Regions from separate parts of the Homo sapiens genome. Here all the other regions are reported to be linked to region 1. The links are microRNA targets in miRTarBase. Many come from high-throughput screens and were not tested one by one. Region 1 holds a microRNA gene; each other region holds the end of a gene's coding sequence.
The links. Region 1 holds the annotated microRNA hsa-miR-3158-5p (CCUGCAGAGAGGAAGCCCUUC, at 5,321-5,341, shown strand). A microRNA usually pairs through its seed, bases 2 to 8, with sites in the 3' UTR of a target mRNA and lowers its output. Matches are read on the target gene's strand: a 7mer-m8 pairs with bases 2 to 8, a 7mer-A1 pairs with bases 2 to 7 and ends in A, and an 8mer does both.

Region 2: miRTarBase lists TMEM178B as a target of hsa-miR-3158-5p. Seed matches in the 3' UTR shown: 7mer-m8 at 6,844-6,850 and 7mer-m8 at 278-284.
Region 3: miRTarBase lists NLRC5 as a target of hsa-miR-3158-5p. The part of its 3' UTR that is shown has no 7-base or 8-base seed match.

Annotation. Positions count from the first base shown.
Region 1 is chr10:101,596,407-101,606,805 of GRCh38, reverse strand. It overlaps MIR3158-2 (microRNA 3158-2), which reads left to right and starts at 5,309; the gene lies at 5,309-5,389. DPCD (deleted in primary ciliary dyskinesia homolog (mouse)) reads right to left here. Exons shown (of 6, transcript NM_015448.3): 3 at 5,944-6,068; 4 at 5,470-5,603. MIR3158-1 (microRNA 3158-1) reads right to left here and starts at 5,389; the gene lies at 5,309-5,389. RefSeq lists a silencer at 3,761-3,920 and an enhancer at 9,240-9,808.
Region 2 is chr7:141,468,196-141,478,594 of GRCh38, reverse strand. TMEM178B (transmembrane protein 178B) reads right to left here. Exons shown (of 4, transcript NM_001195278.2): 4 at 1-8,059. The coding sequence ends at 7,809. Among named protein-coding and RNA genes, the nearest start is that of AGK-DT, 78 kb to the left of the region's middle.
Region 3 is chr16:57,081,980-57,088,979 of GRCh38, forward strand. It overlaps NLRC5 (NLR family CARD domain containing 5), which reads left to right. Exons shown (of 49, transcript NM_001384950.1): 49 at 438-1,541. The coding sequence ends at 549. Among named protein-coding and RNA genes, the nearest start is that of CPNE2, 7.1 kb to the right of the region's middle. RefSeq lists an enhancer at 2,554-2,683.

The DNA of each region.
Region 1 (10,399 bases):
GGTTTTTCCATGATAGGTACTGTACTTGACTTTCTCACCAGCACCTGGACAAGAGAGAGACCCACTGTGCTTCTGGAAGGGTCATAACGTTCAGCCTCAGGCAGCTGTAGGTAGGCAGCAAACATTTATTGGGCATCAACTGTGTCCCAGACCTTGAGCTGTGAGCTGGGGATTTAAGGATGAAGAAGAGGGCGGGCCTGGTGACTCATGCCTGTAATCCCAGCACTTTGGGAGGCTGAGGTGGGAGGATCACTTGAGGCCAGGAGTTCAAGACCAGCCTGGGCAACATAGCGAGACCCTGTCTCTACAAAAAATTAAAAGAAAAGGATGAAGAAGAAACAAGGCCTCCAGATGCAGTGGCTCACTTCTGTAATCCCAGCATTTTGGGAGGCCGAGGTAGGCAGATCACTTGAGGCCAGGAGTTCAAGACCAGCCTGGCCAACATGGTGAAACCCTGTCTCTACTAAAAGCACAAAACTTAGCCAGGCGTGGTAGCAGCACCTGTAGTCCTAGCTACTTGGGAGGCTGAGGCAGGAGAGTCACTTGAACCCAGGGGGCGGAGGTTGCAGTGAGCCAAGATCGTGCCACTGCACTCCAGCCTGGGCAACAGAGCCAGACTCAATCTCAAAAAAAGGAACAAGGCCATATCCCTGCTGATCAGACCTTGTTTTGTTTCTGCTAAAAGATGAACCCTTACAGCAGGATAGTTCCCTGGCTTCCTGCAGATGCCCCGCTCTCCCCCATTCCCACCTCCCTTCAATGTTCTATTTCAGCCATACAATGAAAGATGACATTTTAAGAGCTTATTCTGTGCCAGGTTCTAAACACATTTAATTGTCAAAACAACTCTCTCAGGTTGGTTACTTCTATTATCCACTTTTAAACAAAAGGAAACTGAGGCCCAGAAAAGTTAGATATCTTGCCCAACTCACAAAGCTGGTAAACAGAGAAGCCCGTATTAAAGTGAGAATTCCCCAAATCTCCTGACACCTCCATGTCTCCACATTCTCACCACAAAGTAATAGCCCGCCATAGTCTAGATTATTTGCATTTGTCCAATGATGGGGCAGATATTGAGGTGGGAGGTGGGGATGTTCAACAATGAACAGGTTGTCTCCCCTGGGGTCCGAACACTCTGCGGGTCCCCTGGGTACTCTCTCCAACACATCAGTGGCCTTCCTTTCTGAATGTCAAAAGTCTTCAAAAGATGTATGTGGAAGTAAAGGCTTGTAGCAGAACTCCTGGCCCTGCCTTGTGACCCCGGACAGGTCACTTAATTTCTGGGCCTCAGTTTCCACATTCCTTCTTCGAATAAAAGAGCTGCACTAGATGAACTTGAAGTCAATGTCAAAGGGCCCAGAACAGGCCAACTCTGTACCTGTCTTCTCCCTGTTTGACAGACGACTCCTCCATTTTGACTATTTCAGTAATGATCTATTGCCTCCCACCACTCTCTACTGTATCCCCTCCCCAATCCAGCCTTTCAACCCAAAAGGGCACCAGAGGCCAGGCCCTCAGAGGGAGAGAGACTCTGGAGGCTGAAGGCAGGAGCAGGGCTGCTGTGGACAATCACTTGGGTCATGCCTCACATACCTCAGAGGGGGTGCCATGCACACCTGCACACCGCATGGCCAGAGGGGTCCAGAGAAGCCTCCAACCAGTCCGCCTTTAGAAAAGCAGCAAGCAAATCTTCTTAAACATCAAGGCTCTGGGCAAACTTGGCACCCCCACCCACAGTCGCCCCCTGCTAGACAGTCACAATCACACACACATACTAAAGGCTCTCGGCCCCACCAAAGAGAAGCCTGTTTAATCCAGAGTTTCTTAAATTTATTTAACCACAGAATCCTTTTTTCTAGTGAAGCCTATTAACACCTCCCACAGTGTTACTATCACCGATGTCAAATCAGCCAAGCTCTCCTCAGATTCCAATTTCCAAAGAACTGTTGAGGACCTGCTTCAGGCCAGCCGTTGTGCTGGCCTGTACATATATGATTTCATCAAATTCCCCAAAATCTGTGAAGTAGCTGTGAGTCTTCTCTGATAGATGAGGAAACCTTGCCTAAATTCTACAGCTAACAGTGGCAGAGGCCAGATTTAACCCAACAACTTCTCACTCCTGCACCCTGGCTCATTCCACCTACAGCGGCCAACTTCCAGGCTGAGGCTAGGAGCCCTCTTTCTGCACAAACGTTATCAGGAATAGATGGTCCAACACTGGGATCCTGGAAAAGCACTTTTTTCCTTCCCTGATTCATCCCTCACTAATATGTGAGGCCAAGGACATGATACACTGCAATCAATTCCTTCAAGTAAAGTCACCAACCCAGCTCTTCAGAGACAAGGCAAGTATGGGTAAAGAAACTCTGGCTTTGGTTAGTAACCACATTCCAGAATATTAGAACTGGGGCAGGTTATGGAACCTCCAGGTGAAGGAAGAGGTCAAATCAGAGAGAAATGCCATGATGTGCATTTCTGAAGTGCAGATGTCTGAGTATCAGGAGAGACAGTCACTAACTTTCAGCAAGCTGGTTCATCATGCTGACTTTATATATACATTTATATAATCATCTATAACACAAGAATAAAAGTATGGATCCTGTCCACCTCCTGACAGAATGATGATCAGAAAACAGATTTTAAATGTACTATATCCTTAAAAAGCTAAACACTGTGGAAGGGAGTAGCCATTGAGTTTTTGGCTTCTGGCCAGAGGCCACACTTCCCCACCTGCCAGAATGGCCACCCTGGTCTGGGTGTGGTGGCTCATGCTTGTAATCTCAGCACTTCAGGAGGCCAAGGCAGGAGGATCACTTGAGCCCAGGATTTTGAGAGCAGCTTGGGCAAAATGGAGAGACCCTCAACGCTATAAAAAATTGTTTAAACTTGGCCAGATTGGGTGGTATGCGCCTATAGTCCCAGCTTCTCAGGAGGATGAGGCGGGAGGATCCCTTGAGCCCAGGAGTTCAAAGCTACAGTGAGCTATGATTGCAAGAAGTGGACTCTAGCCTGGGCAATAGGGCAAGACTCCATCTCTTTTTTTTTTTTTGAGATGGAGTCTCACTCTGTCACCCAGGCTGGAGTGCAATGGCATGATCTTGGCTCACTGCAACCTCTACCTCCTGGGTTCAAGCGATTCTCCTTCCTCAGCCTCCCGAGTAGCTGGGACTACAGGCATGCACCACCACGCCTGGCTAATTTTTGTATTTTTAGAGAGACAGGGTTTCGCCATGTTGGCCAGGCTGGTCTCAAACTCCTGACCTCAGATGATCCACCTGCCTTGGCTTCCCAGAGTGCTGGGATTACAGGCGTGAGCCACCGCGCCCAGCCAAGACTCCATCTCTTAAAAAAAAAATAAATAAATAAAAATAAAAATAAAAAAGAATGTCTATGCAGGCTGTAACCCCTGATGAGAAATAAATCTCTCCCTTCCAAATTAATAATAATAATAAAGGAATACCCATTGAGTTCTATATAATTAATGGGAGTAAAGGTATAAAATACATTCTTCCAGGTAGAAGGTAAAAATGCCACTAGGTTCGGGAACGATCTGGCTAAGGGTTCAGCGGCCTCTAGGTTACCTCCCAACAGAGAGACCTGAGGAGGGCAGGGATGAGCCAGGCTGGGACACTGGACCAGAGGCTCAGTGTGGGTTCCAAAGTGGGCCCTGAAACACTCCTCTGTCCTCTATGGGAATCCAACCCTCAGCCCTGCCCCTCCAGGGGCATCACTCCCATCCCACCTGGCCTCACCCATCATTTCAAAAATGTCCAACAACCCCTGCTTGCCTTGAGAGCTAGCCTGGGCCTCCAGCCATGGAGCTCCTGGCCAACAGCGCCACCTATGGCTGGATGTGCGCAGGAGATGGGACCCAGAGGATATGCTGGCAGATGAATTTTTTGGTGAGCTAGCTAGCCTCTTTCCTCACTCCCTGGTAATCACATTTCTGTCTGATATCTGTATTCGACAGTGACCTCTGGGGGACAAAAAAGAGGCAGCAGCCAGCTTCACAAAGTGCTGGGCTGCAGATTCAAGTGCTATCAGAAGCACTTTTGTTCCCAGTTTGGACCCAAGGCCTCTTCCACCAAGGAATGCTTGCTGAAGCATGGAGTTTGTTCTCCTACAGGCAATTTCTCTGTTGTCTGAAATTGCTAAATTCCACTTTAGGCAGTGACTCCTGTTAATGATGAGAACAATAACGGGAATAAACTGCCTCTTATCTGAGGGCTTCAAAGTGCTTTATAAACACAAACCCTTATTATTATGACTTTATATTTATAGACAAGGCCCACTGCAGGGGCTGCTGGCTGCATGTACAGCAATAATCCTGAAATTAATTCATCCATCTCCACCCTTTCCCCTGTCCTCTTAACCCTGCCAAAGCAATGGGATATGGGGGTCACAAGAGGATGGCAGCACCCAGGGCTGCGATGGGGGAGTCTGGGAGCTACCCTGCTTCCCTGTGGGCCTCGTGAGCCTGAGGGAGATGGAAGGGGAGACTGGCACCACATCACCTGAGGAGATGCACAAGGAGCTGTGTCCCCATTACTGCATGTAAAGCAAGAGATGGGTGGGGGCATCCCCATGAGGCATGTTGAATGGCTTCACAGCTTGCAGACAGGTAACTTATAAAACCTCCCATCTCAATGCCCAAATCTATTTTGTGGGAGTTGTCCCTAGACTGTATTCTCTCTAGCCCAGGTCAAGATTGATTCATTTCAGGGTCATTCCCTTCAGGCCTCACACAGGGCATTGTTCTCCTGTGATCAGTCAGGGCTCCAGAAACCTAAATGAGATCAATGCATTTCCAAAATGGAAATGCACTGTGGCCACCTTCTGTCCTTTCAACCCCTGCAGTTTGCCTCCCCTCTAGGGGACCACAAAGGGAAGTTGAGTACCCCTTTTGAAGCATTATGCAAGAGACTTCCAAGCGGCCCAAGCATCTGCCCCACTGTCAGTCTGGGGAGGGATTAGGTTTACTGCTGCCCAGTCTGCTTTAAACTGCTGTCAAGTACTGCTTTAAAGGACTGTCACTCCCACTTCAGACAGGGGTGCCTTCCAAGCTATGGCTCCCTGCCAGCTCTGACAGTGATGTCACCAGGCCACCCTTACCAAGGCCTGGCTCCAGTCAGGAGACCAAGGTCATAATAACCTTTCAGCAGAACCACCTGAGACCACAAGTTAATGGTCCTGTGATTTCCCTCATCATCTCATTCATTCAACAAATATTTACTGAGCCCCTATCTATGCCAGGTACTATACTAGATACTCATTCAAGTTTCTCTTCCCCGATGGAGCTGATTACATTATTCAGGCCGGTCCTGCAGAGAGGAAGCCCTTCCAATACCTGTAAGCAGAAGGGCTTCCTCTCTGCAGGACCGGCCTGAATAATGATCCTAACGCCAGATCAAACCCCACCCTACACCCCGCTCATACACAAGCACACAGGGTGCCTTCCACGCTACTCACTTCTTGTTGGTTGTTCTGACAATGATGCAGCGCTCCTTCTGGTCCACAGAGACACTATAGACATCCTTAGGATAGGGGAGGTTTCGAATCCGCCACTGGAAACTCATCTTGGTGTCCTTGCGCATGAAGATAGGCTGCAGAAGGCAAATCCAACTCGAGGACTGTTCCTGGGGAAGGGAAGGCTCCACCCTCATCAGAGCGCTACCCCGGGGCACAACAAGACCCTCAGCTCTTCTCCACTGCTCCCCTCTGACGCTGCTATTGCTACAGCACTCCAGGCCCTGAGCCCCCGCCCTGGGACGATCAAGCCAAAATGTCTGTATTCATTCAAACAAACATTTATAGAGTGCTGTGTCCAGGTGGCACACTGGAGGCGAGGAGGTGAACAAGACATGGTCCCTGCCCTCAAGAGCCAGCAGCCCACAGCCCACCCCCACCTCAGTCCGTGCAAGACACCTGGACAGATGGACGTACATTGGCATTGCTTTCCTTGATGAGTTCAGGCCCCAGGTTCCCTGCTCCTAGGGGCGCTGGGTCTCCTACTTCAAGCTGCCACTGGCCCATGGCTCCCAGGGCACTTTTCACACGCCACTTTCTCACTGGGGAGAGAAGCAAGCATCGGGATGAGAAGCAAGCATCAGGATGAGAGTGAAGAGAGGGTCTCTGCTCTTTTCTGCTGAATCACCGGCACCACACTAGGTAACTAGCACAAGATGAAAGTGGGAGTGTTGGGCCTTTACTCTCAGCTTTGTTAATCTAAGGAGGGACCTCACAACTTCTGAAATTTCAGTAGAGCATTTCAACATTAGACAACCCTCAAAGCGCATCTCATGGGTGCTCAGGCAAAAGGAACTGGAATGAAGCTCTGAGAAGAGCCAAGTGGAGTCAAGAAACCCTCAGGTGTGGCTTCAAGCAAGGAGAAGATGTGAAGATTAGGAAAAGGGTTGTTTCTGGTAATGGAGAAAATTTGGATCCCAAAAAGGAGTTGAAGCACACTTTTTCCCTCAAAAACATGCAGAGGAAAAAATAATTAAGAGGGTGAAAGCTGTTCGGCAGGTCTGTATCATGATTCAGAAAGTCCAAATATAGAAATTCACTCTTTTCAGGTATACCTTGCTTAAAAAAAAAGAAAAAAGCAAAAACAAAAAAACGCTCCAAAGCTGCATTTAAACAAAATCGTAGGCACATGCCATATTTTAAATGCACGGTTTATAAAAGATCTAATGTGAATTTTTTGTAAAAGGGAATCCTTCTAGAATGCAAATAACCATCTCTATTTTACCTTGTTTCATAACCCAGATGCTTGCATAAGATTTTAAGGCACATATATTATGAAAATTATAAATCAAGAAACTAGTTGAATGGACTACCTGAAAACCCCTGCTGAGATTTTCATTTTCAGGAACCATGCGGTCCATCACTGCAGGGGGATCTTTTCTGAGCCATGACCTCCTATCCCCCAGTTCCTTTCCCTTCCTGCTGCATTTGGAATCCGGGGCTGCCCACTATGGTATCCTCCAGCCTGAGGAGCCCAGCTGGTGCTAAAGACCAGCAGCCTCTGTAGCTGTTTAAGGAGCTAAACAACTCAAAAAGTGCACAGTACTCAGTTACAGTTGTTTCTGTTTGTGTCTTTTTCCAGGTAGGAGTTGAGAGCTACAGTCAGGTTCTCAGCACTAGGCAGCCGGCGGTTTTACTTTAGACCTTTTGAGCAGCTGTGTCAAATCCAAACGCCCTCACCGGTATAAGTAAGGCACACAAGCTGAACACAAAAGTGTGCTGTAAAATTAGAATTTTCCCTTAAATATGTGCTTTTATAAGGTCTGCTGCATTCTGCAGTGTGATTTTATTACCTCTTAGGGCCAAAAATTCTCCCTAGAAACACATTTCCAAGTTTATAATGAAAATTAATAAGGAAGAGTAAAACTTGGAAATATGCTTTATAGGCAACTTTTTTCCCCCACAAATACTTCTCTCTTAAGTGAACGGACTGTGACCAGGAGTATATCCAAATCTATTCAGTGTTAATACCTCACTTCACTGGAAGCAGCCTTCTGGGGGCCTCTGACACAGTTGCAAACTCAGAAGTGACAAATGCCTCCGAGCAGCAGCTTATTGTGAAAAGATCCATGTACCCTACTCTATACTATAGGAAAGATCACTCTCAGATTCTCGCTCAGACTAGGTATAAAATGCTGTGTGTAGAATAAGGCAGGAAATTACTTTTTTTCTCAGGCATATTGACAATGGTATCGGGGACAACTCACACTGGACGGCAGTGTCAGAACCACATAAACACTTGGGACCATTTAGTGTAAGGGCAAACAAGCACCCTTAGACTCCAATGGTGCCACTTTATAATAGAACACAACCATCACAGATTTTAAAGGTGGAAGTTCCTTTAGAAAGCATCTACTCCAGGCCGGGCGTGGTGGCTCATGCCTGTAATCCCAGCACTTTGGGAGGCCAAGGCGGGCGGATCACCTGAGGGAGTTCGAGACCAGCCTGGCCAACATGGAGAAACCCCGTCTCTACTAAAAATAAAACATTAGCTGGGTGTGGTGGCACACGCCTGTAGTCCCAGCTACTGGGGAGGCTGAGGCAGGAGAATCGCTTGAACCTGGGAGGTGGAGGCTGTGGTGAGCTGAGATTGTGCCATTGCACTCCAGCCTGGGCAACAAGAGTGAAACTCCGTCTCAAAAAAAAAAAAAAAAAAAAAAAAAAAAAAGAAAGCATCTACCCAATGTCTGTATTTTTAAAATGAGAAATAGCATTTTTTCCCTGACTGCTCTCTTTCAACCCTTGCCACTACTCTCTAGGAAACAGACTATGAAGAATTACTGAGGCTCAAGGAGACAATCTTACAAATGCCACGGCTAAACTCCAGGTCTCCTAACTCCAAATCCAGAATTTGAATTATTAATAAAACTTTATTCTGAAAGTGTTCAATAAGCACATGTAATATTTTGAAAGGTTTCTGTTTTTTTTTAAGTAGCTCAATTTATTTTTTATATTTGGCCTTTAAAGGGTAAGCTTTGATTATCTGAAAAAGTAAATTATGAGGACTACCTCACGACCTAGGGCTGGATAAGTGAGGTGCCCCTGTAAGTCATGGGCCTTGCTAAAATGGGTGTCCTAATGCATAATAATGCACCAAGGTGGCCTGGAGGGACGACAACCACCCCAGGGTTTTCTGTGCACTTTTACTCCAAAAAATTTTGAGTTTTACACAGAAAACTTCCCAAGAAGTACTCAAAGAAGGAAGAAAGTCAGCTGCTGATTTCCTTACTTCTGACCTTAAAAACCACTCAGGGAACTTGACACCTCTGGCTGCTTCACCTTTATTTTTTGTTTAAACACCTTGAGAATTAAATTCTTTGTTAGAATGTAGAAGAAAGTCTCCTTTCCCATTCCCTCTAGAGATAAGACCCAATAAAAGATTTTGGGGAAGTCCTTCTTATTTTTCCTATGCACAAGTGCATGGGTGTGAACACACATGTACAAATGCACACTTTGTCTTGTCTTTCTTGCCCCCGTCTTTGTTTCTGAACTCAAGGACGGCTCCTGCGGCAACAGAAGACTGTTTCCATCTGCTGTCACTCTGATTTGATTATATGTTAAACCCAAACTGGTGTGAGGCAGCTTCCCGGGACGCTGTCATATCTTCCCAGCTGAGCCCCAGCCAGACCTTGGAAAAGAGACTTTCCACCCCGGTGAAGAGTCTGATGGGGAATATATAAAGGAGGTGGCGCCTGGGGGCTTTTTCCTAAATCAGCAGGAAGCAGGCTGATGTCCCAGACTGCTGAAAGGAGGCCCCATCTTTCAGGTGGGCTGGAAAGTAGAAGTCCTAAAGGCCTCTTTCCCCAAAGCTCCAAACCCTGGCCCACTTCCAATGTGGATAATTACATTCCCCTTCCCTAAATGTTCCCTGCAGCTTCAACTGGATGCAGGATTCTTCTTTTCTGCCTTAAAACACTGCAACATTGCTATGTGGCAATTAAACAGCTGCCATGTCCCATCCCAGAGGAGGCCGAAGGGAATCGAGTGGGTCATTTATAAAGCCAGTGAAGTGCTTGGGGATGAAAGTGCTCAATATCCTCCAAATGCAGCCTGGGGTGGTTAGGCTGGCGGTCAAATACCAAAGCAGATTAAGTCGGTAATCCGAATGTAATCGCTGGGGGATGGCCTGCCCTTCAGCCTCAGCCCCCTTGGACATGCTGTGTTCTTCTCAGGCTGGTTTGATGTTCCGATCATTGTTGTGGGGCCTTCAGTTTTTTCCTCTATGAATACATGCAGCAATCATTGTGGGGGGTGGGAATGAATAGCACTGAGAGGGTAGGAAAAAAACAGGACACTAACATGCTTATTAACACCGACGGGAGGAACTCTGTCCCAGACTGACGCACACCTATTGGCAATTCTTCCTCTGTAAATTACTTTGAATTTTTCTAACAGAAAACTGGTTTGGCTAATTATCAAATTTGTATACTTAGCTAGAAAAATGGAAACTATTCCTATTTATTGCCACAAAAACCATGTCCCTACTTTACTTCATAGAATGCACAAGCAAAAGCCAGCTCAACCCCTGGGATTATTTATACTTAAAAATTAATAATGGAGAGTATTTTGCCAGGGCAGCAGTGGTGGATAGGAAGAAGAGTAAGAAAAAGATCTGCTGTTCTAGAGCTGGGCCCAGTGGCTCAAGTGAGGTCCTCCTGTCTGCCCATCAGTCCACACTCAGGCCTTTCTGGGGAAAGAAAAACAGTAAGAAGAAAAGAAAGTTGGATTTAAGTGTTCTCAACTCCCAGCACTATGTTGTTGAGGACTAAAGCATGGGCTCTTAATTGGACAGAACTAGGCTTAAATCCTGGCTTAGAAACTAGCTACATAATTCTCAACAAGGTGCTTAACCTCTTTGAGCTTCCATTTTTTC
Region 2 (10,399 bases), not on the chromosome of region 1:
TAATTTCACTGATTTTAGCTGTTTCTTTGGACTTTAAAAAATGTGGCTACTAGAATATTTTAAATTGCATATGTGGCTTGGATCATGGTTCCATTGGATGACGCTGGTCTATACTACCTTCCTGAAGCTGGTTCCATCACTGTGACCCAGCAGAGGAGAGGAAAGTTGGGATTGAAGGTGCCTCTAATCATGGGTTGGGTCACTGGCCAAGCTCGACGTGCCTCCCCTCTCTGGGGCAGCTGGTCTTCTCAGTCCTGCAGGGAGACAGCTGTTTATGCTGCAGATTTACCTAATCCCTGCTCCTCTTTCCTACTTCCTATTACTTCAGGGTTACTGCTTTGAGGATCCTTCTCTGCTGCCTTGCTGAGGATTTTCTGGTGCTTCTGCCATCTGTCCTTCCCAAAGCTCCGTTCATCTTACCTCTGCTCCCAACCCACATCTTCTGCCTACTGCCTCCACGCCACCACTGCCTCCACCATCTTCAGTCTTATTTGGTAGCAACCCTTGGCCAGACTCCCTGCTTCTGACACTGCAAGCCACATTTATATGGTGAGTCATAAATTACAAAGCAATTCACACATCATCTCCTTGGATGCTCTTTCTCCTACCCCAGCCCAGTGCAGCAAAGCTCAGTCAGTAGAGACTGATAGTAAAATGAGATCGTCAAAGTGGGTGGGAAAAGGAATCTGAGAATGAAACGGTAGATAGAAGGCTCTGGACTCTGAGTGCAAACTGGCTGCTAGCTCAAGGTCACTTTCTGAGGGGCGAAAGCAGAGGCCAGGAGTAGCAGAGAGAAAACATCTCCTAATTTACCTCCATGCAGTAAGCACGCACTAGCAAGGGCTCAAAGTCTCTCTAGAAATAGCAGCAAAATACACAAGGGGACTGCGCACCCCCAGAGCCCTGGAAGCCCCTGATCCCCATTTGGCTGAGAAGACGTGGAGACAAGGTGAGGTAATGAGACTCCCCCAAGGCCCTGAGTGAGCCGGTGACAGGGCCACTCATGCCACCCCAGAGTCAGGTCTTTGTCATGACCCTTGCCATGACCCTTCAAACATTGCTGATTTACTTTTATTTTGGGGGAAGTGCATTCTACTTTACAGGGAAAAACCTTTAGAACAGAGAGTTCTAAGCAGACACTGATGACTGTGAGAGAAACAACCAGAAAAAAACCTCCTGTGTCAATGGTATCCCTCCCTTCATATCCCACCCTAACTCAGGATTTTAGGGCCGTCCACAGAAGTCCTCAGAAAACTAAGGGCTACATCATTGCATTTGTTTAATCTCAATCTCCCTCCCCTTTATTTTCAGTTTTCACTTTTATTTGTACATTTTTACAGATAGTCTTGAATAGCAAAACAGTCACACCATGGGTGGAAATGGGGAAGGAGTATGAGAATGAGTTCATGAAAGCTCTTCACAGGAAAGGCTTCGTCACGCTCACAACACAGACGCACTGGTACAGACGGAGAGGGTCTATGGGTGACCCGGAAAGGAAAGGAAAAGCTCAGCCAGTGGGAGGAATGGGGTTCTGGAGAGGAGAGAGGGATACAGAGTTCCTTAAGGAGCAACACCTGGTCCTTGGGAATGAAGTGTAGGAGTTGCATTTGCTGAGGTTGGTGTTTGCCAAAGAGATGCCAGCTTCTTCGAACTACTGCTGTGCAACTCTTCATGTTCAGACCCAGTTTTCTGTTTTTCACACCTGAACATACACCCCCCTGCAGTTGGGTGGCTCCCCCGTTACCAGCTGGGCTCTATCTACAGAGAGAGCAATGGCTTCCCTTCCCTTGAAGGAAGTCTCACCCTCACAAGGACACTTGATCCGCTGCAAAGCAGAAAGTGTGCGGACCCTTTGGGAAGGGCGTTCTTTTCTTGTTTAGAACCTAGGATTCTGTTTTTCCCAAACAGGATCACACCCAGACACGTCTTAGTGAATGTACCATCTAAAGGGCTTCCTTATATGAATTCATATGTTTTTGACGAAGCTACTGGCTTCAGCAACTGACAAGAGAAAGAAGATCCCAGCTCCTTGAGACTTGGTCTCATCCTAAACTTGAAAGATCATTGAAACCTTTCAGAATCTGATTTGCTTCCACCCATTCCTTTTGGGAATGTACAGCTAGAAATAACGTTAGGAGAATTAAAAAAAAAAATACTAAGGCATTGACCATGTGCCTTGGTTAACAGTTAACTGGTTTAGCTCATATATGCTATTTGCCCCATATGGTTTACTCATTCTGTCACCTCTGGGAATAACTGAGATGGATAAAAGTGCCCTTTGCAAAACTGGCTCTAGACAAAAGGAAGTCTAGGAATAGGTAAAGAAAAATAAGGAGCCAATTTCTCTGGGGGACCTGAATGAAGAATAGAATCCTTTAAGTGTGCTTAAGTGCGACAGGTCCAGCCCTGTTCAGCAACAAAGATGACCTTGCACTCTGGGTTATCCTTCAGCAGCGAGGCACAGACACTTGATGTGAGAATTCCATTCCAGCGGGGGGTCTTCTGAGGGATAATTAGAACATACATAACTCATATGACACTTCATGTTTGCAAATCACTTTGCAATTTCTTTGTCACCCTTAATATACCATGAGGTAAGGTGTTATCACTTATCCTCATTTTGTAGATGAGGAAGTTCAAGTATGGAGAAGACACAGTGCCCAGAGTCACAAATCATTTCAGTGCAGAGCTGTAGTGAAATTTACAGTAACTGTTACACAAGTGTAGCTTAATGAGTGAGTTACTCTGGCTTCCGCATTCTTACATCTATGATTAGATTGAGATGGCAACTGACCAAAAAAAAAAAGGAAAGAAAAGGAAGGAAGGAAAGCAGGCAGACAGGCCCAAAGAGACATCTTTTAGCCCTGCTCCATCCTGCCCCTAAGGTCTGGCATTAAACTTTTAGGCCTCTTTGCTATCTCTGGGGGCTCAGGGCCCTGCACTCTTGCTGCCAGGAACACAGGGTCAACTCAACGCAGACCAGTGCGGTTCTGTGGTGTACACTGCTCACATGGCCCCAGCTGCCAACCCAGAGACAAGCACTCATTGGGGAAGTTTTGAGGTCATGACCATTTGGATTGGGCCCGCGGTAGATGCCTCAGAGTGACTGGATTATGAAAAATCTTGTAGTCTTTTTTGTATTTTATTTTTCTTATTTTCTACAATGAGCAGTTATTATTCAGGAAAGAAATCCAATACTCAGTAATCACATATTCTAAGAACCAGGAATAATGTTTAAGAAACATTTTGCATCATGGCAGCATCAATGAAAAGAGGGCAAACACAGCCCCAGACATTGAGAGCTTTGAGAGACAGACACGAGAATCACGTGTGTATGTCAACTCTGGTGGGGTTCTTAAAAATCTGCCCCCTTAGTCTATCCCACACCAGCTGGAAGATGGCATGGAAGGCAACCCTGCTGGTGTGCACCAGCTCTTCCTATCTGCACTGAAATCACCTCTCACTCAGAAACATCGTATTTCCCTGGAAAGGGCTGGCTGTGTCCCCTGGGATGGATGTGTCCCCTGGGATGGGTAAGTCCCCTGAAGACAGGGAACATTTTCAGAAAAGCAACTTCACTTTAACTACAAGAATCAACCAAGTATCCCCCACAAACCACACCAAAGGATGACCAGAGTGTATCTCTTCCCACTCCTTCCCCCAGATATTTGAAAAATCACTTAACACTCAGCACATAATCCAGGTGAAGAGAGAGTCCATTCTAAATGCCTCTGGGTGATGTACCTGAGTTCATTATTCTGAATTTGACCCAGGTGGGCATCTTTGGAGACCTAAGCAGCACATCCTCCCACTAAATCAAGACAGCTACACACAGTGCATTCATTTCCGGCATCTTATCATGAGTGTGGATGAATATTGAGATATAGGGCCCAGTCTCAGAGTCCTAGGATATCCTACCCTCTTGTCACAGGAGAGGCAAGCATTGCTAGGTGGGACCACTCATCCCTGATGGGAAGATATGCACCTGGGCTCAGGGCGCTTAAGAAAGTCTTTGTCTAGATTTGGAGGAGTTGTCCAGTCTCTGTGACTCCATGATCCCTGAAGTTGAAAGGGTAGGGTTGTTGAAAAGCTAAGGCTTGGAGGAGGATTGAAGCTGGAACAGGCACAGATTTTATTTTTCATATTTTGATGCCAGGGAGCCACAGACCTCCTTATAAAACCTACAGCCACAATGAACAAGGAAGGGGGCTGCTTGGAGTCTAGGAGCCTCTCTACAGATGAATCACTTGTCTATGTTAATTGACCAAAGTTGATGCAGGAGAAAGTAGGAGTGAGTAGAGAGAGAGGAAACGGAAACAGAAGAAGAAACCGTAACTCCCAAAATAAGGAGAAAAAGATATGGGACCTCTCTCTAGGTAGAATACCTCACTTTCCTGAATCTCAAGGTAGTAGAGTAGGGAAGGAAATAAAAGTTGCAATGGGCCCCAGGCTCAAGGTTGACTTGCATGGAGCTCAAAGCACATACATGTTCATATGCCAGTAAGAAGTTTGAACTTGACCTGGGGTTGCGGCTGGTGACTTTAGTGAGGTCATTGACCCTAAATGCCCTCATAAGGTTGGGTTCCACTTTGATTTGGAGTTAGCAGAGTCTGACCTACAGAGCCTCACAAGTCAAGGCTCCTCTCTTCCTCCTCCTCATCTCCCTCAGCTACCTCACAGCCAGAAAGCTTCCGTAACTGGTTGGAGTCACATGTTTTAATCTGTGGTCAAGCCCTTATGCTAGAGGGATCAAGGTCACCTGAGAAGTCCTCCCATTGGCCAGGACTTGCCGTCTGAAAGGGGCCTCTATCCTGGTCATGTGGCTGGGCGTCTTTTGCTTCCCAGCAGGATCAGATCCCAAAGTGTGTTCGTATTTATCTGGTCCTGCTATCAAAGAAGTCACTCAAAGCCCCTGCTCTGGGCTGGTGAGTTGAGCCCAGGTTGTTTACGTCTTTCCTGGGAGCTTTCTAACATTTCAGGAACTCTCAAGGTTTCAAAGGGATGCAGTAAGCTTTGCTAAATGTCTGTCACAAAGACAATAATTGGATAGAGCAGATAATCTATTCATTGAAAGTATGGGATTTTTTTTTAAAAAGAGGATATAAATAATGATAGGTCTGTGAGCCAGCATCCTCAAACATGATTACTTACAAAAAGTTTAAATGGTTCATAGCAAATTTCCCCATTTAGAATTTTTCCCCTCTCTCCTGCAACTGGAAAAAAGCTGGAATTTCAGTGTGGTCATAGACAAGCCCTCTCCCCCAAATGGATGCTTGTGAACCTGTCTGTCCCTTCCTCGGCAGAGCCCCTTCAGGACGCTTGGAAGGAAGACAAAAGGCCTCTCAATCTGAGATACTTTTCTTCACTTTTCCTTAAGCCCAAGTATGCCCTTCCCCTTAAGGGAGAAATCTAACTTTTCAAAGAAAATTAGAAATAAAATGCCCAATTGAAAAACTGGGTTTTCCTGAAAATTATTTCCCTTCTCATAGAATAAATCCTTTGTTTTAAAAATAATCCTTAGAACCCCAACTGGAAGCTAACAACTTTTCCCGTTGCACACCTTACCCTATCGCCCAGCACACCCACACACAGGGAACTCACACATGAGACCTTTTGCAGAAGCTGACCAGAGTCCCCGGTAAGGAAGTCTTGAGTAGGGCACCCACACCTGTGTGCAGGTGTGTACTGACACAAACGTACACAAAATGCACCAGAGAGATACACATACAGAGAGATCCACATTCAACCCCATTCATGCACATCAGATGTCATATCATATCCAGATATGAATTACATACACGCAGTTCAAAGGAGCAGATGAGGGTGGAAGATAGAAGAGAGAGAAGGTAAGTGGTTAGTAGGTGAGAAAAGGAGGAGAGTGGTAGGAAGATGGGTTGGAAGACGTGTAAATGAAACAGATTACACAGCAGTGGAAGAAAGGCTGCTGAGTGCCTGGCAAAGCTCCCAAAGCATATTTGTTTATGAAACAAGGGGATTCTCTGCTACACAGTTGACCATGGCTACACCAGCTCAGGGATTCTCACCTGGCCTCCCCAGGGCTGCTGGGCACCAGCAGGCTCACTGAGATGACTGTGAGCGGCTCCAGCCCACTCCAGCAGACTCCCACCCCTACAGCGTTCACAACTCTCTGGCTGACTTTGCTTGCCAGCACCTGCAGTGCTAATTTGCTCAAATGAGCCCGAGACACTGGGGTGGATTTATTCCACCTCTGTTTGGGTGCTAGCCACTAAGACTGTTATTTTGGGATTCATGGCCTTGAATATCAAGAGGGAAAGGAAGAGGATGGAAAGAGTCAAGAGTTCTGCATTAATTTACACAATATCATACAAACTTGAGCCCATGGGAAATGGAGGTGCTCTCTCTGCATGTGACCCACTTCCTTTCGTTTGTACAGAGGTCACCCCTAGGGAAAGGGGAGATGTCCAGTGACAAAGGACAGCTTCTATAATGGGGAGTGAAGGTCTTGTTGGTTTATGTTCTTGTACAACAGCAACCAGAGCAACATTTCTTCTCTCTCCTGAACTGTGTGTTCCCCCTCTTCTCTCATGGCTTATGTGCCCAGCTGTGTCTTGAACTTCCAAAATTAGAGGACTAAATCGTGCAGAGTCCCAGAGCTGTAATGTGGAGAACCACGGGGGTCCTCTGGCCCAGTGGCTTTGTTCTTGGTTCTGCCCTCTGGAAATTTCAGCTATACCAGAAACAATTTAAAAAAACACAACACAAACAATAAAACCCCACGCTCAAGAAACATCCACCACACACACACACACACACACACACACACACACACACGCACACACACACCACTCCAGGGATCTGTAGCTGCAGAATTGGCACCCTTATAGGCCTGTCCCTCATGACAATTTCTAGGTCTCTGGGCCTCTATCTGGGGCCATGAAACCACTACAGTGATAAGAGAGACAACAGTCATAATGCAGTATTTCCATTTAAAAGGTAGAAAAGAAAAAAAGGAAACCGCCCAAAGTACACATGCACGCACACCCACACACACACATCACAGCATGACTCCAAGGCTCCAGTCTGCCCAGGGAGTGCAGGTGCGGCTGGGGACAGGGTGGCCTCTTGTTTCACTGGGTGTAAGGCAGCTGGAAGGTAAGACTGGGTTGTCTGAGCATCCACCGAAGCGTCCTTTCATTGATGCAGATCTTGCCTCTCAGCATGTTCTCTTCCCTTCCCACCTATGAAACATGGTCCAAAAGTTTGGCAGCAAAGAGAAAACGTCCTTCTCAGTTTGTTTTCTCTTCCACTCCTTGTGTGTTGCTGGTGGGCTGGGAAGGAAGTCCGAACAGGAAGAGCAGGAGAAGAAGTGATTCTGAAAATGGCCTCAATAATTTGGTTACATTCTAGGAACTGAGGGCTTTGTTACCCTGTGATATGACTGGTTAGGGGTGGCGTCCTCTCCCGTTGACCCAGTGGGTGGCACTTCCTTCTCTACATCTGTGCTGCCTCAGACCCCTTCCACTGTCCCTTCACCACCCCATCCTCGCCAGTGATGGGGATCAAGACGCGGTCGCAAGTGGTGGTGTTTGCTCTGTCTTCAAGAGACCATGAAGCCAAAAGTCAAGAACTGATGGAAGAGCCACAGGATGGAAAAACTTTCCCCATCTCAGAGATGAGGCAACACAAAGTCCGGCGAGATGCAGGTGCCTGAGCCAACTCAACTCTACCTTGGCACTGGCATCGTCTTGATTTAGTTTTGTTTTGTTTTATATATGTATATTATATATATATATTTATATATATATATGTATGTATGGGTTTGTTTTTTAGCACACTGTCCCATTCTCGGGTCTGGATTTAGGGTAGTTGGTCCTCGGGACAGGTTGAACAGAAGGGGCTAAGGTACAGAAGAATCCCGAGATGAGTGTGAGGCCCAGGCCCCCCCATGCACAGAACATGGACCAGCCATAGCCATGGCTGATGTCATCAGGGAGTCCGTACAGGTAGCGTGGGTAGCGTGACAGCTCAAAGTTGATCCCGGCCACACAGGTGCACAGTGAAATGATGCAGAAGGTTCCTGGAGGACAAGGGAAAAGACACAGGATGGGGAAATGGAGAAGGAAAGGGGAGAGGAGCGGGAGAGAGAAAGAGAAAAGTTAATATTATTACATTTTCAATTTTCTTGAGTAGGAAAAATGGGAAGTCTAGGTAAGAGCAGGTTATCACCAAGGTCAGTATCTGGAAATATTCATGGAGCAGAGAATAGTATTAAAGGATCATCACTTCATCACTCTCCAATAATGGCCCAGTCTTGGACACACTCGGGAAGTCTCTCCTTTGGGAAGATGCTAAATAGATATCTCATGAGCATTTTGTGTGGGGTAGAGTGAGCAGAAGAGCATTCAGTTCATTTTCCTAAAGCATTTTAAATTCATTGTATTTCTTTGGAGACATGGAAAACACCTACTGTTTGCTACTTCTTTAAAGAGAAAAACAATCTTTTCTCTTTCTTATACATAACAACTTACTCATACAGTATTAGGTTTTCCTTTAATCTGTTCACCAACAATTCTTCCAAAACCTGGAAATATTTTCCTTTTTCCTATAAGACATTTCCCAAAGTGTTCTCTCTGGAGTGCTAACGCTATGAGATCCTTTACAAAGTGGGAGGCAGAGTCAAAAGACGGGGAATCCTACTCATGACTTCTCACCCATGAACACGCATCATCCACGTTAATATTAAGGTAACTCATCTACCCTACTTTATGCAGAATTTCACAAACTTATTGATGATGGGACGTCCTCTTAAAAACATTACTTATATCAGTCTCTAATAAGAAAACTGCTATAAGAGGTAGAATGATATAAAATGGTTTAGAATTATAAACCCATTTTAAACTAATACAACAAGTTTTTGGTGTGCCTAAAATGAATTCAATAACTTTTCTCTGCATTTGCCGTGTTTTCTGTTCTTTATGTAACCACTGATATGAGAGCAATGAGCAGAAGAAGGATGTATAGTTTGGGAAGGCTGGGCTGGGTCAATGGAAGGAAGAAAAAGGAAAAGCACTTTTATAGGGAAGGAACAAAAGGAGGTGCATTCAATTTTATATTTATTATTAAAACTCTTGCTTTCTAACAGCCAAGTTTCTTTAAGATTGAGACTTGTTTCTTTAAGATCTAGCCTAATTTTTTCCAGAAGCTTCCTGGAAGACAAGGAAGAAAATATAGAGTGGAAGAATGAGGCTCACCAGCTCGTGATAATTTAAATGGCCACAGTTGACCCTAAAATAAGTATTAAGTGCTATGTGCTAGGAACTGTGCTAATGATATACTGGTTAAAAATGAATTATTTAGGCAGAGAGTGAGGGTAAAGAAGTCCTCGGTAAGGTTTTCCTTTTAATAAAAAGCAACCCCCAAATCATTTCTTTGAGCAAATGAGCAGCCTGTAAAATTGAGCTGCAGACATAGATAAGCAAGCTGGAAGCTTGCATGGGTGCATACTGGCAGCTGTGCCAATAGGAAGAGGCTGCCTGGGGGCTAGGCATGTTCAACATGGTGGCTGCATCTTCCCTTTTCTTTGTCAACCACATGAACAGTAAGGAGGAAACAAGATGGTGCCCGCCAGGTAGAAAATCCGTTTGCATAATGAAAAGATTAGGATGGGGTGGCCAGCTTCTTCGTGCCCTATGTAAATGTCACACCCGGTTCAACCAATCTTTGAGCCCTATGTATCAGACGCCGCCACCTCAAGCCGGTCTATAAAACCCTATGCACTTCGCCACAGACTGGAAGTCCCACTTGGGCACCCTTCTCTCTCTGCAAGAGAGAGAGCTATTCTCCTTTCTCTTTCTTTTGTCTATTAAACCTCCGGTCCTAAACCCACTTCTTGTGTGTCTGTGTCCTCGAGTTCCCTGGCGTGAGATGACAAATGTCGGATAATTACCCCAGACAGTGACACTGCCTCACTAAATTTGTGGCATGTACTAAAACCTTAATTCATAAAACAACTCTAAGATGTGGGTTATATTATCCCCATTTTACTGATAAGGACATTGACGCCCAGAGAGCTTAAGTCATTTGCCTAAGATCACACAGCTAGTAACTGACAGAGTCAGGTTACAAACTCAGGCAGGCTAGTTCCAGAGCCTGCAGTCTCATCCACTGTACTGTTTACAACTGGTGCCAGGCAAAGTGGGTCACTTCATGGGTTTCCCTTGTTTCACACCTAGGTTCCAGATGCCTTCTCTCTCACTCGGCATGGGTTAGGGCAGTTTGTAGTTTTGGAGGACTCAAAGCAGATCACTGAGCCCCACACCCACAGTTTCTGGTTCAGGAGATCTGGGGTGGGGGCCTGAGAATTTGCATCCTGAAGAAGTTCTTGGGGCATGCTGATGCTGCTGGCTCAATGACCACA
Region 3 (7,000 bases), not on the chromosome of region 1:
ACAGTTGTATAGGTTGTGCACTGCACAAGGGCATTAAACCTAAGGGGCACCATTCACATTGTCAACCTGCTAGATTTCTAGCAGATGAGAGTAAAGTACCTTGTTCTACCAAAATCATATATTATGACAATTTCAGACAGATGGAAGTAAAACATCTTGAAGAAAGAGGGTCTTTTCCTTATTTGCACAAATGTGTCATATGAGTGTGGCCTTAGCTGGCATCACTATCTCCCAGGGAGGAAGGTTGAGTTGGAGGACTCAGGAGGCAGGTGTGGGGTACACCCTCTCCCTAGGTCAGCTATGCTGGTCTAACACCTGCCTCTGCCAGGTAACTCTAGGCACAGCTCTACCTTTTTGGGCCTCAGCCTCCCAATCTGCAGATACGACAGATGGCAAAGATGGGAGGATGAATGAGTGCCTATATCTGTGCCCCACAGCCTCTGGAATAACCCCATTCCCTGCGACATGGCCCAGCACCTGAAGAGCCAGGAGCCCAGGCTGGACTTTGCCTTCTTTGACAACCAGCCCCAGGCCCCTTGGGGTACTTGATGGCCCCCTCAAGACCTTTGGAATCCAGCCAAGTGATGCACCCAAATGATCCACCTTTCGCCCACTGGGATAATTGACTCAGGAAAGAAGAGCCTCGGCAGGGCGCTCTGCACTCCACCCAGGAGGAAGGATACGTGTGTCCTGCTGCAGTCCTCAGGGAGAACTTTTTTGGGAACCAGGAGCTGGGTCTGGACAAAGGAGTACCCTGCATTACGTGGGATATGTGTGATCAATTGGGGACATGCGACACACAATGAGGGTGTCATGACAATGCATGACACGTACGGTTATATGTGGCAGTGTGACCCCTTGACATGTGGCGTTACATGAAAGTCAGTGTGGCACGTGTTCTGTGGCATGGGTGCTGGCATCCCAAGTAGCAGGATACATGATTGTTGGTCTATATATGACACATGACAAATGTCCATGTCACAGGACTCATGGCTGGCCAGATGACCTCAGGCTGGCCCAAGATCTAATTTATTAATTTTTAAAGCAAATACATATTTATAGATTGTGTGTATGGAGCAGCTAAGTCAGGAAAAGTCTTCCGCCCGAGCTGGGAGGGGAGAGTGTCCATGCACTGACCAGTCCAGGGGCTCAAGGGCCAGGGCTCTGGAACAAGCCAGGGACTCAGCCATTAAGTCCCCTCCTGCCTCAATCCTCAGCCTACCCATCTATAAACTTGATGACTCCTCCCTTACTTACATACTAGCTTCCAAGGACAGGTGGAGGTAGGGCCAGCCTGGCGGGAGTGGAGAAGCCCAGTCTGTCCTATGTAAGGGACAAAGCCAGGTCTAATGGTACTGGGTAGGGGGCACTGCCAAGACAATAAGCTAGGCTACTGGGTCCAGCTACTACTTTGGTGGGATTCAGGTGAGTCTCCATGCACTTCACATGTTACCCAGTGTTCTTGTTACTTCCAAGGAGAACCAAGAATGGCTCTGTCACACTCGAAGCCAGGCTTGATCAATAAACACAATGGTATTCCACGTCTAGCGTGAATCCAATGTTTCCTCTTACCCCACTGAAGTCAGAGGTGGTTCACCCCCTGCCGTAAGGACTGGACAGCAGCGCAAACAACAGAGAGGTGTGCTGAGTGGAGCACTGGCCTGGGAGTCAGGAGACATGGGTTCCCAGCTCAGGACTTGTCTCTAGTCACGTGGCCATGGGCAAGTTACCTCCTCTCTCCAGACCTCGCCTGCAACGTGAGGGTGTTATAGAAGCTCAGCATGTTAGAAACATTTTTTGTTTGACTTGCATAACATTGAAACTACTTTCTGAATTCATTGTCAGTATTCAAAATTGGGAATTTTACATAAAAATTCAGATTCTGCTTGCTTTTAAGTGCTAATCCAGCACTCCCACTGAAGAGTCACATGACTGTGCCTTTTAGATGTGCACACATGCCTCAGCTTGCTGCAGTCCCCACCACTCCCCATTGTCTTGACACCCCACCTGACCCCACTTTTTGCTGCTCTTTGACCCTGGCCTAGAGAGTTTGCATGGGTATGTTGTACCAGAGGAACATGGCTTTGGAAGTCAGACAGGCATGGAATAGAATGTGACTTAACCCTTTGCTACCTGTCTTTGAGGTATGTGGGTTAGCAGCCACCCCCACAACACACAGACACACATTAAGACTGTTGGAGAGGTCAGGAAAGCAAGACGAGCAAAGTTACCGGCAAAAAAAACAAAAAACAAAAACGAGTTATCCTAGCTCTCCTCTCTTTTTATAGCCGAATATCATATGACGTGAAGAGATGCCCAAAATGACAGATCAGCATCCTGTCTCCCTCGTGTAGTTAAAACAAGTTGATCTTAGGGGGAGCCTCCCACCCCATTGTGAAAAACCAAGTCGGGAGGGTGGTGCAGTTACAGCTGAGCACCACTGGAGGGCAGGCTAGCCCACTGGCGATTCATGAGATAACTTCCTCCACTGTGGGACCCAGAAGGAAGTTAGGAGGCGATGCTGGGGCCTGTTCCCACCCGGCCTAGTAGCTTGGGATGTCCCAGCCTACCAGTGACATCACCTGGGTGGCTTGGCCTTGACCTTTGCAGCCCTCCAGGTTGTTCCTGGCCCCCTGCCAAGCATGAGGAGAAAGTCCTCCAGCCAAGTGCCAAGCACCCATACTTCACACAGGGCCACCCTTACCGGGCCAGGGTCAGGGCACACCTAGCACCAAATGGGCCCGTCAGCCTGCTCATGGGGGAAAAAGTAGGCAGGAAGAGGATCCAAGAAGTTTACCAGGCAACCCTGGGTCCGAAATTCTGTCTCCCTTTCCTGGGACATGATGCCGAGTTGACCTTGGCCTTCAGTGTGCCCAAGATCACCTTCACACTAGAGGGGTTGCATTGCCTCCTCTCCTTGCCCAAGAATGAAGGATGAATCCCTCAAAGCCTGGAAATAGCTTGGCAGGGGAGCCAAGGCCGAGGAAGGAGCAGAGGATACCAGCAGAGGCACCTGGCCATGGGGGACAGGGGACCCCGGAGCTCAAGGACACTATTTTCATTTGCTGCTTAGCCATTTTACTTCTCTCTTCGCCTTTTCCCCCCTTCATATCTGCCCAAATTCTACACTCCAAGAAACTTTCAGCAGCTTCCCTGAAATAAACCATAGTATTGCGGCACTGCAGAGCTGGCTGGGCCTACATCAAGTTGGTGTGAAATTGCCTTGTTCATTTTATTAAGAAACTTCCTCTCTTGCCACCTGCCTGCTTGGAGGCCTTAACCGTTTTTTGATTTTTCTTTTTCTTTTTCTTTTTTTTGAGACGGAGTCTTGCTCTGTCACCCAGGCTGGAGTGCAGTGCTGCAATTTGGGCTCACTGCAACCTCTGCCTCCCGGGTTCAAGCAATTCTCCTGCGTCAGCCTCCTGAGTAGCTGGGATTACAGATGTTCGCCACCACACCTGGCTAATTTTTGTATTTTTAGTAGAGACGGAGTTTCACTATGTTGGCCAGGCTGGTCTCAAACTCCTGACCTCAAGTGATCCACGTGCCTTGGCCTCCCAAAGTGCTGGGATTACAGGCATAAGCCACCATGCCCGGCCTGTTTTTCTATCCAGCACGGATGGAGTACAGCCTCCCTGCCCCCTTCCTCCCCAAAGTAGGCTCAGTTTAAATATATACATGAAAACAAATAAAATTCAAAGAAAAGCAAGGTTATGGGGTGGCAAGCAGTAAGATCCAATGGAAGCTCCCCGTCTCTGCATGTGAGCCATCGCACTGAGAATGCGATCAGGCTGGTAAGTACCCGCGTCTATCTGCAAGATGGGGAGAATCTCCTTTTACTACTTTGTCTCTTGGCCTCAGTCTTATAATTGTACAAATTGAACGTTCATCTTTCTTTTTTAGTTTTATTTATTATTATTATTTTATTTTTCCATAAGTTATTGGGATATAGGTGGTGTTTGGTTACATGAGTAAGTTCTTTAGTGGTGATTCATGAGATTTTGGTGCACCCAGCGCCCGAGCAGTATACACTGCACCATATTTGTAATCTTTTATCCCTCGCCCCTCTCCCACTCTTCCCCCGCAAGTCCCCAAAGTCCATTGTGTCTGAATGTCCATCTTTCTGATGGAAGTCACAGACTCCCCCTTCGCCTCCTTCACATGCCTCAGGTGCTGTCAAATTGCCTCCTCTATCCTTCCCCTAAACACACATCTGTCCAGCCAGTGGTTCCCAAGCTGTAAAACTGCAGTTACATAAATTGTAAGGGTGTCAGGATCCTGTCACCATGCAGATTCTGGTTCAGCAAGTCTGGGGCAGGATACCCAGACTTCTCCAGCCCTTCCAGACAGCCCCAGACACCTGGGATTCTGCATTTCTAAGAAGCCCCCAAGTGATGGCCATGTTGCTGGGCCATACTTAGCTTAGCAAGACTGTAGATGAGTGGATCGCAACCCTGACTGCACATTAGAGTCACCTGGGAAGCTTTTAAAAATCACTATTTTTAAAAGGAGTATTTGGGCTGAGTGCAGTGGCTCACGCTTATAATCCCAGCACTTTGGGAGGCTGAGGCAGGAGGATCACCTGAGCTCAGGAGTTTGAGACCAGCCTGGGCAAAATGGCGAAACCTCGTCTCTACAAAAAAACACAAAAATTAGCCGGGCGTGGTAGCATGCACCTGTAGTCCCAGCTACTCGGGGCGGGGGGTAGGGGTGGGGTGGGGTGCTGAAGTAGGAGGATCCCTTGAGTCTAGAAGGTGGAGGCTGCGGTGAGCCAAGATCATGCCACTGCACTCCAGCCTGGAGGACAGAGCAAGACCCTGTCTTGGGGGAAAAAAAGAGTATTTAGAAAGCTCCCTGAGTGATTCTAGTGTGCAGCCGCAGTGGAGACCCACTGGTCTGGAGTATGCCGTCTCTTGGAGAGGCTGGGCAAGCCTTTGCACCTGCACCTGCACCCCTTATTTTGTCCTGAGGATCCCATGACCCTCCCTCCCCAGAGAGGGACACTAACTCCAGAGACTTTTCCTAACTTTTCCAAAGGTACAAAGCTGGTAACTGGTGGCACCAGGAATCAAACCCAGGTCACTCCTGTGACACCCACAGTTTTCTCATCTGTATAGTAAGGGGATGAGCAAAAGGAGGTTAGGCACGAGGACCTATGTTCTTCAGCTGCAAAGATGATCTTATGGCTCATTTCTGCACTCCCTTGGGGAGAGTTCTGGATCCTCAGCCACCTGCCCTGCCTGGTTATTTCTGTAGAGCATCGCCAGCTGTGATGTACTCTAGGCCCAACAATCACAGCAACAATCTCCTCTATTTTACAGATGAGGAAACCAAGACACAGAGAGAGAACATGACTTGCCTAAGGTCACACAGTGAGTATTTAGTGGGGCTCAGACTCCAACTCTGGAACAAAAGGAAAGGGTGACTTTGGAGTGGTCCTGGACTGGAGATTTAACTGGTCTGCGGGTCTGTGTGTTCCCTGGAGAGAGAGAGACCCTCAGGAAGGCAGGAGGGCTGTGCACCCTTCTTGGGCTCTGCTTCTGCCCCCAACCCTACCCTTCATGGCCAAAGCTAGGCCTGAGGACCTGTGATGCACTCTAGGCACATCCAGAGCTTCCAGGAAAGACCATTCAGTGGCTGGTTTGGTAAAGATCATCTCTCGGCCAGGCGTGGTGGCTCACGCCTGCAATCCCAGCACTTTGGGAGGCTGAGGCGGGCGGATCACGAGGTCAGGAGATCGAGACTATCTCGGCTAACACAGTGAAACCCCGTCTCTACTAAAAATACAAAAAATTAACTGGGTGTGGTGGCGGGCGCCTGTAGTCCCAGCTACTCGGGAGGCTGAGGCAGGAGAATGGCACGAACCCAGGAGGTGGAGCTTGCAGTGAGCTGAGATTGCACCACGGCACTCTGGCCTGGGCAAAAAGAGCGAGACTCCATCTCAAAAAAAAAAAAAAAAAAAAAAAAAGATCATCTCATCCCGGGGCAAGGCTCAGGAAGTTCCAGGGACTGCTGGTCTTTGTCCTGCCTCCCAATTACCCCAGTGAAGAACCCTCCCCTTGGCCCTTGGAAGCCACACCTGGAGGCTCATCCCACACACACCCCAACCTAGCTGTCCAGAAAGAGACCTTTGCCCTGGGAAGGAGAGAACAGTAGAGGAGCTTTCCCCAGGGAAGAAAGGCCAACTGGGGACCCCTTGGTTAGGAGCCTGGGGCCAGAGGCATCAGTGGTCCTCATGGGACCCTTAGTCCTCCACCTCCCACTCCCCAACACACACCCACACATACTTCAGCACAGGGTCAGAGCTGAGGGAGGTGTCTGAGGTTGTCTGGAAGGGCTGGAGAAGTCTGGGTATCCTGATCCTAGAAAGGGACCGTCCCTGCATCAGAGTGACCACAACCCTGGAACTTAAAAAATAGCAATTATATGGCCGGGTGTGGTGGCTCATGCCTGTAATCCTAGCACTTTGGGAGGCCGAGGCAGGTGGATCATGAGGTCAGGAGATCGAGACCATCCTGGCCAACACGGTGAAACCCTGTCTCTACTAAAAATACAAAAAATTAGCCGGGTGTGGTGGCGGGCACCTGTAGTCCCAGCTACTCGGGAGGCTGAGGCAGGAGAATGGCGTGAACCCGGGAGGCAGAACTTGCAGTGAGCCGAGATCGTGCCACTGCACTACAGCCTGAGCGACAGAGCGAGACTCCGTCTCAACAACAACAAAAAAATAGCAATTATACACTAGCCCTGCTGTCTACACTTGCCTGGCACGTTACGGTCTCACTGAATTCTGTCTCATTGGATTCTCACAACCATCCCATAAAGCAAATACTAAGTCTATCCTATTTTACAGAGAAGGAGAGCAAGGGCCAGAGGATTGAGTGATTTCACCTAGGCAGCCGCTGAGCGGCTGGGATTCAAACTCATGGCCATGACTCCATGCCTGAGGTTTGACAATGGAGTCAGCCACACCTGCCTCTAACCAGGAGATCCTTGAGGGGAT